Regions from separate parts of the Homo sapiens genome. Here region 1 is linked to region 2. The links come from fine-mapping of genetic effects on gene expression. A gene starts in region 2. The other region holds a variant in brackets. All regions are shown on one strand. Distances are between the middles of the regions. Region 1 holds the start of TOP3B (DNA topoisomerase III beta). Region 2 holds the start of PPM1F-AS1 (PPM1F antisense RNA 1).

Region 1 (8,327 bases), 42 kb before region 2:
CATCTGTATTGTAAAGACAGTAATGGCAGGATTTGTGGGTGGTCCAGGATGCTCCCAGGCTCTGTCCCTGAGCAACCAGGAAGATGGAGTTGCCATTTTGGAGACGAAGAACCTACCAAGGTGTGGGTTTGGAATCAGGAGTTCTGCTTTGAAAGTGAAGTCTCACCGTGACTCATAATTTGTGACATTTCCAAACCTTAATTTGCCTATAGAACTTTTCTTTTTCCAGAGCCTCTATCCAGACTACTTATTATTTATCAAAATAAATTAGATAAATAAATAACTTAATTTTAGAATTCATCTTCCAGATATACTTTACACAGATCATTCCAATAAAGGCAGGTTGGGGCCCGGGACAGTGGCTCACCCCTGTAATCCCAGCACTTTGGGAGGCCGAGGCAGGAGGATCACTTGAGGCCAGGAGTTTGAGACCAATCTGGGCAACATAGTGAGACCCTCCCCCTAGACCCCATCTCTACCAAAAAAAAAAAAATTAATTGGCTGGGCTTGGTGGCTGGCACCTGTGGTCCCAGCTACTGGGGAGGCTGAGGTGAGAGCATCGCCTGACGCCAGGAGATCGAGGCTGCAGTGAGCTGTGATCTCGCTACTGCGCTCCAGCCTGGGTGACAGAGTGAAACCCTGTCTTTAAAAAAAAAAAAAAAAAAACAGCAGGTTGGGAAAATCTACAAGGAACAAGGGCAATGTGTGTATGTTATTTAAAATAAGATCATAAAACGTATTTTAAACCTTCCATAATCCTAATGCTCTAACAAATAAATTAGTTGGCCGAGCGTGAAGAGTCACACCTGTAATCCCAGCATTTTGGGAGGCCGAGGGAGGCGGACCACCTAAGGTCAGGAGTTCAAGACTAGCCTGGTTAACACGGTGAAACCCCCGTCTCTACTAAAAATATAGAAATCTTTGGGAGGCCAAGGCGGGCGGATCACGAGGTCAGGAGATCGAGACCATCCTGGCTAACACGGTGAAGCCCCGTCTCTACTAAAAAAATACAAAAAATTAGCCCGCGTGGTGGCAAGCGCCTATAGTCCCAGCTACTTGGGAGGCTGAGGCGAGATCATCGCTTGAACCCGGGAGGCGGAGGTTGCAGTGAGCCGAGATTGCGCCACTGCACTTCAGCCTGGGCAACAGAGTGAGACTCCGCCTCAAAAAAAAAAAAAAAAATATATATATATATGTATACACACACATATATATACATACACATATAAATTAGCTGGGCGTGGTGGCGCACGCCTGTAATCCCAGCTATTTAGGAGGCTGAGGCAGGCGAATTGCTTGAACCTGGGAGGCGGAGGTTTCAGTGAGCCGAGATCACACCACTGCACTCCAGCCTGGGCGACAAGAGTAAAACTCTGTCTCAAAATAAATAAATAAATAAATAAATAAATAACTTAATTTTAGAATTCATCTTCCAAATATATTTTACACAGATCATTCATTCATTCCACAGATTTTTTTACAGCATCGAAAAGAAGCCTGCTATACACACATCGGTACATTTTTATTATTTTAATTATTAACAGCATAAATGTTTTCATGCCAGTTTTCATAATCATTGTAATGATAATTGTCATGATTGTCTCTCCGTGGCGGGGAAGAATCTGGGTGCAGGGCTTGGGGATCCCTGCGGTCCGCGGCGTGCAAGTGCCACTCCCTGGGGTGCTCCCGGAATCCGCGAGCCACGGAACCTAAGAACGCCGACCCGCCGGAGCCGGAGGGCAGACGCTGGCACACCGGACGCGGGGACGCCAGAAGCGGCTGGACCCGGAAATAGGGGTTGTCGGTAGCCGCCCCGGGAACAAGGACCGGAGCTGGATCCGCGGTGCGGCTGTGGGTGAGCGGCGGGCTGCGGGACCCTCGCCCGGCGGCTCAGAAAGGCGGGAAGCGCACGCATTTTTCTGGCTTGTTTCCTGAACGTTGGCCGGCGGAGGACCCGCGAGCTCGGGAGAGCGCCCGGGCCGGGCTCTGCATTCTTGTTGCCTCTTCCCTGGCGGGGGTGATACTCTCCCGCGGGGCTTGCTGTGGGGGTTCAGGGAGGTGGAGATGGGCCCGCCATGTGCCTGCAGGGAGCAGGCGCTGTGGTTAATACTTTTCTTCTTCGAACCCTCCCACAGCTCTTTAGGGTGAGATCTGCTGTACCAGTCTCACAGGTAGGGAAACTGAGGCTCAGGGAAGCTGTGCAGCCACCGGGGCCCAGATCGGTGCGGTACACACCCAGGCAGCTTCCACTCGCCGCCCCCTAGGCCCTGGCTGGGTTTTGAGGGCACCCAGGTTCTCTGACCTGTTATCTGTAAATGAAGTAGGGTACTTTTGTGAACAAATTAGCTGGAATCCAGGGGCAATAATTTCTCGCAGAAGTGAAAGGTAAGATGTTCCTAGTCTTGCCTTTTTATCTTCTCACCTTTTGAAACAGGACCTGAGAGGCCAGCCTAACTTGGGCTTGATGGCCAGCCAGTCCTGGGATTCTTTTGCCAAGGTCACCTGACACTAGTGTGACTTGTTCTGAACCTCCATTTACTCACAGTTTTAAAAAATTACAACACCTGCCTTATGGGGTTGCTGGCGAGATTGAATAGTGTTGATAGCTATGGTGTGCCTACTACAAAGGAGGAGCTTAAGAAATGGTTGTTTCCCTCTTTTCCTGATTCTAGAAGCATTTGGTAAAGTTACTGAGGTGGTAAATCCTAGGAATTTTAATGCTATTCAGACCACTGCTAGGCCTACTCCCAGGCCACATCTGCTTGTTTCTTTTTTTGTTTGTTTTGTTGCAGGCAGAGTCTCACTCTGTCACCCAGGCTGGAGTGCAGTGGCGCGATCTCAGCTCACTGCAACCTCCGCCCCCGGGTTCAAGTGATTCTCCTGCCTCAGCCTCCTGAGTAGCTGGGATTACAGGCATGCGCCACCACGCCCAGCTAATTTTTGTATTTTTAGTAGAGACCAGGCTTCACCATGTTGGCCAGGCTGGTCTTGAACTGCTGACCTCGGGTGATCCACCTGCCTCAGCCTCGCAAAGTATTTGCTCACTGTCTATTTACCGTGAGAATGCACAAAGCAAAACCCGTGTTCTCCTGCTGCTTACTTACTTTCTAGGAGCTGTAAGACAAGAGCTGAATAAGTAGATGGAAGCTGTACCAAGTGTAGTGATGAGTGCTACAAGGAAGCAAAGCTGGGCTGCTGTTCCATCAGAGTGCTCACAGAGGCAGGACAGGATCAGGCTTGGGGCACGGGTTCTAGAACAACCAAGTCCAGCCACTGGAGCTCTGGTCTCTCTGACCCCACAGTCCCAGTCTAGGCCAATAAAATGGCAGCACCTATTAGCATCCCTGCCTAGGATGCTGGCAGGACTGCCTGGTCCCTGGTGTGTCCTCATTATGTCATACATAATTGCTGACTACTCTGTGGCATAGACATGAGAAAATCTGAGGAAACATTTTAGGACAAAATTTCCTACTTTGGAAGAGATGGGAAACTCAGACCCTCACAGAACAATGCCCCTCTGCTGCGAGTTTTCCCTTTTGGCCTCTGGCTTCCCAGGGTGAGAGAAGGGGAGTCCCTAAATCTCTTTTAAACCTCACTTCTGGGCCTCTGATTTTGGTAGAATCAAAACTTCCCCAGAACGGAGAGCAGAGGCCAGTCATAATCACCTTGGTTGTTCATTCATTCCCTCAGCAGGCATTTAGTGCATGCTGGGTGCCAGAAATATGGCAATGAACCTGACAATTGTGGGAGAGACAGACTGCTGACGCCAGATGCAGTCTTCAGGAGGGGAGGGGCAGGGGTCAGAGCAAGTAGACTAAGGGGGAAAAGTGGCCTAGGCCGAAGCCTGCTGGCGCACAGGGAGGAAAGGTGGGTGCGCAGCAGAGCCTTGGGAGATGCAGCTGGAGCTGTCATGGGCCAGAGAGCTCATCTGCAGACAGTGTCGTCATTCCACAAGGCCTCGGCTCTTTCACTGTGGGATGGTTGTACATTTAAGGGGAACATCCACTTACTTATTTTGAGGAAAAAAGCAAATTGTCATTTTATTTGGGACAGCTTTCTGGTCAAGATTACTGATTTCACTGTAGTCCTGTGATCTCTTAAGTGGGGAACAAGGTTGACAGCCCAAGGCCGACCTTGGACCTCTTCCCCTGCACAGCATGATGAGCAGCAGAAGCCCCTTTAGTGAGGGAGTTCCTTTGGCATCCTTTCTGAACAATGCCCTTTACAACCCTCCTTTATTTTTCTGGTTTTATTGTAAAGTCCCTTGTCTTAGTTCTTGTCCCTCAGTCACCTGTGTCCAGGCGCTAAATGTAAAAGGTGCAAAAGGGAATGTGGTGAGGAGGCACCCCCAGCCCTGACCTCCAGGCCCTAACACCCACTCCAGGTGATTGCTTGGACTGTTTGTTTTGCGTTCCATCCAGACATATCGCCTCTTCATAATCAAGTGCACACGTGTGCACACATATGTGTGATCACAGATGGCAGTGCTCTCTACACACCGTTACATGCCCAGCTTTCTTAGCATGATTTATTTCAGTGATCTGATCCACGTTAGTATGTACCAAGCAGATGCTTTCCTTTGTAATGCTGCCAGGTGCTCTACTGTAGAGAATGCCATGCTTTTTTTTTTTTTTTTTTTTTTTGGAGATGGAGTCTCACTCTGTCGCCCAGGCTGGAGTGCAGTGGCGCAATCTC[G/A]GCTCACTGCAAGCTCCGCTTCCCGGGTTCACACCATTCTCCTGCCTCAGCCTCCCGAGTAGCTGGGACTACAGGCGCCTGCCACCATGCCCAGCTAATTTTTAGTATTTTTAGTAGAGACGGGGTTTCACCACGTTAGTCAGGATGGTCTTGATCTCCTGACCTCGTGATCTGCCCACCTTGGCCTCCCAAAGTGCTGGGATTACAGGCGTGAGCCACCGCGCCCGGCCAGAGAATGCCATGCTTTTATTTAACCACCTCCCTGTTGACAGACACCAGCTTGTTTCTAACCTTTTATCATGATTGATAATGCTGCAGAGAACTCCCCAGTGATGTGGTTCATCACAGGCACCACCGTGCCCAGCCTGAGGCCACTCCAGCGCTGCCCTGTCCTACCTCCTGGGGACTCAGAGTCCACATGGACAGTCTTGTCAGGGCCCACCACTGACTCCTGTGAGTCTCCCCAGGTGACTTCACTCTCTACCTGTCTCACAGCCCTTGCCCTCCCTGGGTCAGCATGCCACCACCCAGGCCCCTCTGTAATTCCTGTTTGAGCCTCCCACCCTCTGGGAGTTGCTTCTTTGACTCCCACTTCCTGCTCTTGTGCCTCACTTCCTGGACCCCACAGAGCACACCCTCTGTGGACCCTCCCCAACCCTCACCTCCCTCTTCACCCAACTCAGAGTCAGGTTCTGTCCTTGTAATCTCTCCCCTCGAACCCTGACCCACTCCCTCTCCCTCCTACTCACCTGGACTCTCCCATCTAACTAAATCCAGTGCTTCCTCTGCTGTGGGCCTGCCCGCAGCATCACCACCTGTCCTCCCTCAGTGGACAGCCGTACCATGCCTCCTCCTCCACCAAGAGAAGTGCAGCCTTGTGGCAGCTCTGCATCGCCTGGATGCTGACCGGCTGCCTCTCTTGCCCCTCACCCTCCCAAGGCCATCACTGCAGCAGTTCCTTCCCCTCCGGCACGCAGCTTCTCTTTTCCTTCTCGCCAGAGCAGTCCCATCAGCGGAGAACATGCTGGCACAGCCACCATCCTGAAACAAGAGGGGACAGTGCACCAGCCTTCTCCCATCTCCCAGGTTTTGTTGAGCTCACCCCATGCAGCTTTCATCTGTCACTCACCACATGGCCCCATCAGGATTACCCAGGGCTCTGTTTGCCAGACCCTACAGTCAGGTCTCAGCTGCCATCTCGCCTGGCCTGTCAGTGTCCCCCACATGGTGATAACTGCCCTGAAGTGCTCTTTCCTGTGGCTTTCAGGACCTTACCCCTCCTGACTCACCCTGCTAGCTCCTCATCTCCCGACCCCCAGCCTGGGCTCCTTCCACATTGCTGCCACCTCCTCCAGGCCACCCAGGCTGTCCAATGGGCAGGTCCCGTTTAACACACCTGAAGTCCCACATCAGACTGCCAGTCCCTTCCTGTCATGCCTAAGCCAAAGCCATGGGTTGTTCCTTTTGCTTTTTTGTAAAGATGAGGTCTCATTGTGTTAATCAGGCTCTTCTCAAACTCCTGGCCTCAAGTGGTCCTCTTGCCTTCGCCTCCCAAAGCACTAGGATTATAGGTGTGAGCCCATGGCAGGTGTGAGCCCATGCCCAGCTCTGCCTCAGGTCATTCTTGACTCACCTTCCCCTCCCCCTCCCATGTCCCGCCATCCCAGGTCTGCCTGGATTCTGACTTCCCTCGCATCCTCCACCACTGCTACCCAGGGCCCATTCATCCTCTTCTATGTGGCAGCCAGAGAGGTCCCTTTAACACTTGAAGTCAGATTATCCCACACCTATGCAAACCCTCTGCTGCCTCCCAGCACCCCTAGAGCAGACCCACATTCTACACCCCTGCTCCCTCCCTCAGCCCCATGAGCCCCCCTGCCCAGCCATATCCTCCCCAAGGACCTCACCTTCCCTGCTCCTTCTGCCTGGACTCTTCTCCCAGGTGTCACCCAGCCCTGCCCTGTCCCTCCCCTGCTCCCATACTACAGCATGAGTTCTGGGAGGGCAGGACCTGGTGTTGCTTTGTGCTGTATTCCCTGCATCCTGGACTAGGCCAAGCATGCAGTAGGTACTCAATAAATAACTGGACTATTAAGTTCATTCCAAGGAGTGGAATTGCTGGGATGTGCACTCGGACTTTGAGAGGGATCCCTGAATTGCTGCACATAGAGGTTGTTCCCATTTAACTTCCCCATGCCCTCATCTGCTGTGTGTGCAACGACTTTGAGTCTCTCCCTATGTGATAAGCACAAGCTCATTGTAGTTCTGAGTTTCTTCTGCGAGTGTTGTTGGACATGATGTGATACCACAAAGGTACTTACGTGGTGGTTTTCCCTTTTTTTTTTTTTTTTTTTTTTGTTTGAGATGGAGTCTCACTCTGTTGTACAAGCTGGAGTGCAATAGCATGATCTCGGCTCACTGCAACCTCCACTTCCTGAGTTCGAGCGATTCTCATGCCTCAGCCTCCCAAGCAGCTGGGATTATAGGCACCCACCACCACACCCAGCTAATTTTTGTATTTTTATTAGAGATGGGGTTTTGCCATGTTGGCCAGGCTGGTCTTGAACTCCTGACCTCAAGTGGTCCACCCACCTCAGCCTCCCAAAGTGCTGGGATACAGGCGTGAGCCACTGTGCCCATCTAGGTGGTAGTTTTTCTTTATGCTGAGATTATTTTATTTTGCTTTTACTTTTTTTGAGACAGGGTCTTGCTGTCACCTAGGCTGGAGTGAAGTGGCTGTTCTATCCACAGGTGCAGTCATGGCACACAACAGCCTTGAATTCCTGGCCTCAAGCAAGCGATCCTCTTGCCTCAGCCTCCTGAGTGGCTGACACTATAGGCATGTGCTACCACACCTGGCTTGTGAGATTTATTTTAAAAGCACATGTTTTTCCTAATATTTTCTGGTTTCATTGTTTCTACTCAAACCTTTGCTAGATCTGGAATCGGTTTTAGTGGGATTTAGGAAGCAGGAGTCTAACTTTATTTTTTTTCACAGCAGATTTCCCAGTTGTCTCAATACGAGTCTTTTTTTTCTTTTTTAATACGGTGCTATGTTTATAAACATCAGTGCTACATTTATAATGACTGAAAAAACAAAAAGGGTTCATGTGGTTTTCTTTTACTTGGCTAGCAGGTATTGAATGTCATGTGTCAGGCACAGAAAGCTGTTGCAAAGACCAACAGTGATTCAGACACAAAGCCCATCGTGTCCTATTTTGGGGGTGAAGTAGTCGCTGATGATGGCATGATGTGAGTGGGTTGGAATGGAGACCTAGCCCAAGAGCTGTGGGCACAGGAGGGCTGACTTACCCTGCCAGTGGTGTTGGGAGACTTGAGCTGGGCCTGTGGGCCATCCAGCTGCATCCTCCAGGCCTGGCGGAGCTTTCTCTCAGGCAGGGAAGCGCAGGCACAGAGGCTTCAAGTGCGTGTTTGCTTCGATGATGATATTTGATTTAATTTGGCCAGAGCATGACCTGCAAAGCAAAAGGTGGAGTGGAATAGGTGGGAGATAGATGTGACAGAGTCCTGATGTCTGCTTGGGGCTGGACCGACTAGCCAGAGGGTCTCAGGCCCATCATGGATCAGAAGGACCTGGGGGGCCCAGCCTGGGCATCTGCATTTTGTAAAGT
Region 2 (8,327 bases):
CAGGCATGCTCCCCTGACCCCCACTCTCAGGGACAGGCACACAGGGGTGAATGTGTGTTGTCCAGCTTCCAGGGCCCCCACTGGGTGAGAAGGCAGATTCCAGGGGTCAAAATGCATGTTAGAGGCCATAGGGCCACTGAGGGAGCGACCCCTTCTGCCCAGAAAAGCCAGGGATGGCTCAGAATTTTAGACACTCCTCCCCACTGCCCTCCTTCTCAGCCACAGATGGCTTCAGTGTTTCTTTCCCTGATCTGCCCCGTGGCTCTCTTCTGCCCTGCCTACCTGCTAAAAGACGCTAACCCTCCTGTCGGTTTGCTTTCAGCCTGCTGCGACCTCCCTTTCTACCCACTACGCCTCCTCAACTGCTCAGCTCTGTTCTATGACATTGAAAGCAGTGACCCAATCTCACTTCTTAAAACATTTCCTTCGTGGCACCCAGAAGGCCACTCCTGGAGTCATCCCCACTTTGCTAGCCATGCTCTGGCCCTGTGGGACTCAGCCCCCTATCCTCATTCATTCCGCAGCTCCATCTCCTGCCCAGACCATGTTCTTGCAGGCCCTCAGGCCTCTTGACCTCCGTGGAACACAAGTCGCTGTGGAAACAGAGCCCATTGCCCATCCCCTGCCTGACTCTTCCATCCCCATCAGGGTAATTAACTGTACCACGAGCCTTCTAGTTGCTCAGAATAGAAACTTCAACACTGTCCCTGCCCCTCCATTTATACTGCCCGACTCTGTCTGCTCCTGTTTGTCACCATGGCCCTGCCCAGCCCAGGTCTTAGACTCTCTCCTTTAGACAGTCGTCCCCTTCTTGCCAGCCCACCCTCCACACCAGGGTCAGAGAGGCCTAAAAGCCCCATCTGATCATGCCATGTCCCTCTTCAAACAGACCAAAGGCGGCCAGGTGTGGCGGCTCACGCCATTATCCCAGGGCTTTGGGAGGCTGAGATGGGAGGATCACTTGAGGGCAGGAGTTCAAGACCAGCCTGGACAACATAGCAAAACCCCACCTGTACAAAAAAATTTACAGATTAGCTGGACATGGTGATGTCTGTAGCCCTAACTACTGCCTGTAGCCCTAACTACTCTGGAGTCTGAGGTGAGAGGATCTCTTGAGCCCAGGGGTTTGAGGCTGCAGCGAGCCATGATTGCACAGCTGTGCTCCAGCCTGGGAGACAGAGCAAGACCCTGTCTCTAAAAATAAATAAATAAAACACAGACCAATGGCAGTGCTTCCCTGTTAGCATAAAGCTTGGCCTGCCCTGTTCCCACAGCCCCTCACCCCGGCAGCTCCTATGGCCCCATCCGCCCAGGGACCTTGTGGACCACGCACAGCCACTTCCTCTGCTGAGTGTGCCCATGGGTCCCACACCCCAGGATCAGCTTCCTGGAGCTGCTGTACAAATGACCACAGACCCAGCAGCTTAAACAACAGAAGTGTGCTTCATGGTGCTGGAGGCTGTCATCTGAGATCAGGATATTGACAGAACTGGCTCCTTCTGGTGGTTTGTGGGCAACCCTTGGCATTCCCTGGCTTGTAGGTTCATCCCCCAGGTCTCTGCCTCATGTTCCCCTGGCATTCTCTCTGTGTGTGTGTGTCTGTGTCCAAATTCCTCCCCCAACCTGTTTTTTTTTTTTGGAGACAGCATCTTGCTCTGTCGCCTAGGCTGGAGTGCAGTGGCACAATCTTGGCTCACTGCAACCTCCACCTCCCAGGTTCAAGCAATTCTTCTGCCTCAGCCTCCTGAGTAGCTGGAACTACAGGCATGCGCCACCACACCCGGCTAATTTTTGTATTTTTAGTAGAGATGAGGTTTTACCATGTTGGCCAGGCTGGTCTCAAACTCCTGACCTCGTGATCTACCTGCCTTGGCCTCCCAAAGTACTGGGATTACAGATGTGAGCCACCGCACCCGGCCCAAATTCCCTTTTTCATAGAGACATCAGTCATTGGAGTAGGGGCCCAGCCTGCTCCAGCATGACGTCATCTTAACTAATTCCATCTGTAATGACCCTGTTTCCAAATGAGCTCCATTCTGAGGTACTGGGGGTTAGGGCCTCAGTGTATGAATTTAGGGGGGACACAATTCAACCCAGAACACTCCCCACCCCCCAGGGTCCCCAGCTGGCATGGGTGATTCCTCTGCCCTCCTGTGGCCAGGAGCCATCATCAGCATGGATGTCAGGCAGTTTACTTGCCCATCAACAGCCCCCTCCCAACTAGCCGCAGGCTCAAGTATGGTCCAGCTCCCCACCAGATGGTTGTGCGTCTGCCTTTGCTGTCCTGTGACCTTCCTGTCCCAGCTCCCTGAGGACAGGGGCCGCCCTGCTGGCCGTGACCCCTCAGCATGTGGGCTGACAGTTGGGGAAGGGGGGCTAGGTGTGGTCTCCTGCTGGGGGCTGCCCCTCACTTCCCCCTCCTCATCCCTAGGAAGGCCCCGCCACCACTTGCTGCTGCTCTGGCCCACGAAGCAGTTTCACAGCTGCTACAGACAGACCTTTCCGAATTCAGGAAGTTGCCCAGGGAGGAAGAAGAAGAGGAGGAGGACGATGACGAGGAGGAAAAGGCCCCTGTGACCTGTGAGTTCTGTTTCTTCTGAGGTGGCCCCAGGGCTGCTTAGCAGGCAACAAAGGGTGACGACATTGTGGGAAGCCCATTGATTGGGGTCCCTAAGGGTGCTGGGGCCCTCGCTCACAACGGCAGCAGAATCAAGGAGCAGAGAAGGCTTGCGGCCCCAGTGAGGTGGAGGGTGGCGGTCACAGCCCTCCACAGGTCATATAGTTCCCAGTCAGCCCACGAGGCAGGGGTGGGTGGTGCAGACACCCTCCTGTGTCCTGTCTGACTGAAGTTCCAGAACAGCCCAGGAAATTAAAGATGCTTATCCCGTTTCACAGAGGATCTCACAGGTGATCGATCTCTGGTCATGCAGCCAGGTTCAAGTGCCCTCAGTGTTGTAACTCAGTTAACATGCGCCCGGGCAGGCGAAGTCAGGGTTGGCCAGGTGGCATGCCAGCAGGTCTCGGGGCAGCAGCGTGGTCCCCTCAACGCTCGGGCCCCCTGCCTCAGCTGCCCCCAAGTCAGGATTCTGTTGGGTGGAGACGCTCTACGGTGTCCATGAGCCCCATGGTTAGATGCTGGTGGAAGCTTGTCTGTCAGCCTGCTCCTGGGACAGCCATAAGCATGGTGTGGCCAGGGGAACCCAGAAATGGAGAGGGCTGCAGATCCATTTCACAGAGGATATAATCATTAAAAAGCAGGGCTTTTATTTCATGTGACTTTCTTTCATTCTCCTAGTAATTTCATTTTATTATATTTCGCCAAAGTGTTGGTTGATGTTAGACCAGAAATACAGGGCGTAAGAATCGCAGGCTGCAGCAGGGGTGCCACAAGGGGGTAGCAACGTCCCACCCAGCTGAATAGTTGTCCCTGGACAGGCCAGCAGGCAGCAGAGTTGCAGTGGATTTTCCCTTCCTTGCCATTTCCTGTCGGCCATTTCCTTTCCCTTCCTTTGCCATTTCCTTTCCTTTCCCTGTTGTTCTAAATTCGGCATTACTAGTGCATGCGTGCATCCGGGGAAAAGGAACAAGGTGGGAGAAGAGAGAGAAAGCGAATACCCGAGGCCGCCAGCATCAGTGGGTGCCCGCGCTCTCCTCCTCGCTCTCGTCCTCTGCCCTCCGCCCTGGCTCCCTGCCCGCATTCCCTGGGAGCGCAGCCTTGCCTTAGCCTGGGAGACAGCTGTCCACAGTGACAGGCGGCCATTGTTCTCGGCCGAGCCAGCAGGCTTCCGGCCGGTGGCAGCTGCTGCTCCTCCGCTCTGCGGCCCCACCAAGGGGGCGCCGCCACCGCCCAGGCCCTCCCCGCCTGATGGGTCTCTGTCCGTCCACGCGGGAGACAGCGCCACCTGCCGGTGAGAAGGAGCGTTGCTGCGCCGGCACCAGCCCAGTCCTACGCTCGGGGCTCCTGCAGGCCTGGGAAGGAGGGAGGGCGCAGCTAGAAGGAAGTCTCGCCTGCCCTTGCTTCCCCGTCTGTCAGAGTGCCTCGCATGCAGGCCTGCCTAGCGGCCTTGATCATGCTCTCCCTGTCACGGAAGTAGAATGTAGTCAAGTTTTTGGACTCCAAGCCATTCTTACAAAATTGCGTCAGAGTGGGGATTGTATTATAAGAATTGCCACTGAAGAGCAGCGAGTGGCTGAAACCTCTGTGTGGCTGCCAGTCAGCCCCTCCCCGGTGACTGGATCAGCGAAGAATCCAGAAGCGAGGTTGCGGGGCTGCAGCCCTTGGCATGGGGAGTCCGTGGGCTGGGCAGCACTGCCTCAGCCGCTGGCCTTTCCTGAGCAGAGTCTAGGCTAAGCGGCTGTTGGAAATAGCAGTAGCACCCGGGGCGAGACCGTGAGCCACAGCGGCGGCCGGAGTCTCCCCCAGCCCGAGCTCAGGCCTGGTAAGCACCAGGAGCCCACAGTTTCCAGAGGGAGTGAGGAGGAGTCCATGGCATTTAGGGGCAGTTTTCTGGGCACAGTGGCCCTCAGACGAGAGGAAGAGGAGGCAGCGCTACAAGGACTGGCAGGACGAGGGGGGTTTCCTGCTGGTTTGCAGGGGATCCACTGGCCAAACTTGTGTGGAGCTGCCTTCCCTGAGCTGGGCCTGCCTGAATGAGTTCTCAGGCCCCTCCTTCACCCATAGCCTTGCCAGTCCCCAGTTCTTGCCAAATGCTTGAATAGGCCCCTGTGTTGGCCATGGCGGCAGCAGCTGGCTCTGGATGCCCCCACCCCTGCCTTGATGCATGGATTCCCAAGAACCTGTCTTTCTGTGACCTCCTGCGTGCATAAGCCCTCGCGTTCATGGTTCTTCCTCGGTGGCCCCCTCTGGCCTCAGCCCTTCTCCTTTTCTTCCACAGCCTCCGCCTTTAGGCAGGAGCTCTTTCCTCCTCTCAGTTCCCCATGTCCTTTGGGTGTGGCCTGTGACACTCAACTCCTGCCCTCGGCTGACTGGCCCTGATTCACCATGCTTGCCACATGCACCTGGGCTGGCAGGAGTTCCAGGAGAGTTTGTGCATTGAAGTGACATGAGTCCCTGAAGCCAGAGCCCCCATGGTTTCCTTTGGGCCTGTTACTGGTTGATCTTTTCTTGAGAAGCCAAGCTTAGGTAGGATTTGGGTATTTTTTCTTTTCAAATGAGTATTGTGGCTTATATTATTTGTTGCTACATAACAAATTGCCCCAAATGTAGTGGCTTAAAACAACAGACATTTATTCTCCCAGTTTCTGTGGGTCTGGAATCTGGGAGCAGCTTAGCTGGTTCTGGTCCAGGGTCTCTTACTGGGTTGTGGTGACATGGTTGCTGGCTGGGCTGGAGGGCCTGCTTCCACGGTGGTTTCAACACACGGCCACTGACAGGAGGCCCTGGTCCCGTCCCATGTGGACTCTCCGTGGCGCTGCTTGAGCATCCTCACAGCTCAGATTGAGCGATGAGAGGGAGGGAGGAAGAGAGTGAGAATACACAAGGCGGGAGGCGCAGGGCCTCTTTGTTTCGTAACACCTGAAGCACACGCAGTCACTGCCACTCTTCATCAGAAGCAGCCAGCTCCCACACTCAGCAGTGGGAAGTGAGCTCCACCTCGCAAAAGGGGAAGTCAAAGAATTTGTGGACATGCTTTAAAGCCACTGTCACACGAGACTAACACTTGTAATGAAAAACTGGGGAAGTATTAAGAAAGTGTACTTCAGGAAAAAGCTGTCCGTGGAACTGCCACGTGCAGGCCCACTCTGACACCTTGGTTGTGTGCTGTTCCCGCCTTTTTTTTTTTCTGGCCCTGGTGGTTTTTCATGGACTTGTAGTTAAACTGCATATGTAATTTTCCTTCTTTTTTCACTTAGTATCATGACAGAAGCATTTTACATGCTTATAAACTCTATTAAAATCCATTTTTTAGTTTTCTGTTTTAAGAGACCAGGTCTCCCTCTGTCACCCAGACTGGAATGCAGTGGTGTAATCGGAGATCGCCGTAACCTCGACGTCCTTGGCTCAAGGGATCCTCCTGCCCCAGCCTCCCGAATAGCTGGGAGTAGATATACCACCACACACAGCTAATTTTTTTTGGTTTGGTGTTGTTCATTTGCGACTGAGTTTCGCTCTGTTGTCCAGGCTGGAGTGTAGTGGCTCAATCTTGGCTCACTGCAACCTCTGCCTCCCGGATTCAAGCAATTTTCCTGCCTCAGCCTCCCAAGTAGCTGGGACTACATGTGCATGCCAGCACGCCCAGCTAATTTTTGTATTTTTAGTAGAGACGGGGTTTCACTTTGTTGGTCAGGGTGGTCTCGAACTCCGGACCTCAAGTGATCTGCCTGCCTTTACCTCTCAAAGCGCGGGACTACAGGCATGAGCCATGGCGCCCAGCCTGTTTGTTTTTAAGAGACAAGGTCTCTTTATGTTATCCAGGCTGGTCTTGAACTCCTGACCTCAAGCAGTCCTCCCACCTCAGCCTCTCAAAGTGCTGGGATTACAGGCATGAGCCACTATGCCTGGGCTAGTTTTTTTTAATTAAACTTTTTGTTTTGAGATAATCATAGCTGCACATGCAGTTGTAATAAATAATACAAAGAGATTCCATGTATACTTTACCCAGTTTCCTCCAATGGTAACATTTTGCAAAACTATAATAAAATATCACCACCAGGATCCTAACATGGTCAAAATACAGAGCAGTTCCATCACCAGGATCCCTCCTGTCACCCTTTTAAGGCCACCCTTATACCCCCACCCCTACAGACCCCATCCCTAACCACTGGCAACTACTAATCTTCTCGGCTTCTACCATTTTATTATTTCAAGAACACATATAAATGGAAGCATATGATGTGTAACTTTAGGGGACTGGTTTAATTCTCTGGAGATTAGCCCAGGTTGTTTGATGCATCAGGAGTTCATTCTTTGCCATTCTTGAGTGGTATTCAAAGGTATGGGTCGACCACGGTTTGTTTAACCATTTCCACGTTGAAGGACATCTAGGCTGACTCCAGATTTTGGCTGTTCCAGATAAAGCTGCTATGAACATTTGTGTTCATGTGTTCAAGCTTTTATGTGAACAGCCTTCATTGTTCTGGGATAAGTCCACAGGAGTGCCACGGTGGGGTCGTATGGGAGTTGCATATTTCGTTATGAAAATCATATTTAATAGCAGCTTAATTCTTCATCAAGAGACTAGATCTTTTTTTTTTTTTTTTTTTTTTGAGACAGAGTCTTGCTCTGTCGCCCAGACTGGAGCATAATGGCATGATCTCGGCTCACTGCAACCTCCGCCTCCCAGGTTCAAGCGATTCTCCTGCCTCAGCCTCCCGAGTAGCTGGGATTACAGGCGCCCGCCACCATGCCTGGCTAATTTGTGTATTTTTAGTAGAGACGGGGTTTCACCATGTTGGCTAGGCTGGTCTCGAACTCCTGACCTCGGGTGATCCGCCCACCTCGGCCTCCCAAAGTGCTGGGATTACAGGCGTGAGCCACTGCGCCTGGCCGAGACTAGATCATAATTTAAGTATTATTCCTTTGTCATTGGATATATAGTATTTCTAATTAATGGGCAATTATAAGTGATTCTGTACTTTGTCTTTAAAATTATTTTTGTGTTTCTGATGATTTCTTCAGGGTGGGTTCCCATGAGTAGAGTTGCTCCATGGTGGGATGGGAGACTTCAAGGGGCAAGTTGCCAAACTAGACATTTCTAATTCTGGTAACAGGCTGCCATGTGCGCGTTATTGAGTTGATGTGCTCACAATGCCCCGGGAGGTGATGGGGGCTTTGCAGGCCCCTGTGGGAGCTGTCAGGGAGCCAGCGAGGCCTCAGCTGGCTTGGTTGGCACTTCCCTGACAATCCCTCCATTGTGCCCATCAGTGCTGGATGCCCAAAGCCTGGCACAGAGTTTCTTTAACCGCCTTTGGGAAGTCGCCGGCCAGTGGCAGAAGCAGGTGCCATTGGCTGCCCGGGCCTCACAGCGGCAGTGGCTGGTCTCCATCCACGCCATCCGGAACACTCGCCGCAAGATGGAGGACCGGCACGTGTCCCTCCCTTCCTTCAACCAGCTCTTCGGCTTGTCTGTGAGTGCTCCCGTCCAGACCCTGGGGACAGCTTCGGAGGACCGGGGCGAGGGTGGGGGCCCCCCAGGTACCGAGAAGAGCTGCCCACCAAGGCTGAGACAGGAGAGACACCCGTCAGCCCCTGTACTTGCCCAGCAAGAGACTAAGAAGGGCAACAGTGTGAGTCTGTTATGAGGGAGGCCTGGATGCCACGTTCCCCTGACTCCTGCACCAGGAGCCACCTGGGGCAGCCCCTCATT

What was found. PIP is the estimated chance that this variant, and not a neighbour inherited with it, causes the effect.
Region 1: its variant is fine-mapped to the expression of PPM1F-AS1 in whole blood (TOPMed, PIP above 0.99).

What each region holds. Positions count from the first base shown.
Region 1 is chr22:21,976,258-21,984,584 of GRCh38, reverse strand. TOP3B (DNA topoisomerase III beta) reads left to right here and starts at 1,798. Exons shown (of 18, transcript NM_001282112.2): 1 at 1,798-1,855. RefSeq lists enhancers at 1,619-1,913, 1,411-2,397, 5,848-6,017. The variant G/A (reference allele first, on the strand shown) is at 4,696.
Region 2 is chr22:21,933,785-21,942,111 of GRCh38, reverse strand. It overlaps PPM1F-AS1 (PPM1F antisense RNA 1), which reads right to left and starts at 3,875. Exons shown (of 2, transcript NR_147620.1): 1 at 2,499-3,875; 2 at 1-1,010. It overlaps PPM1F (protein phosphatase, Mg2+/Mn2+ dependent 1F), which reads left to right. Exons shown (of 8, transcript NM_014634.4): 3 at 2,432-2,580; 4 at 7,886-8,088. RefSeq lists enhancers at 1,837-2,643, 2,644-3,451, 3,452-4,258 and a silencer at 3,741-3,900.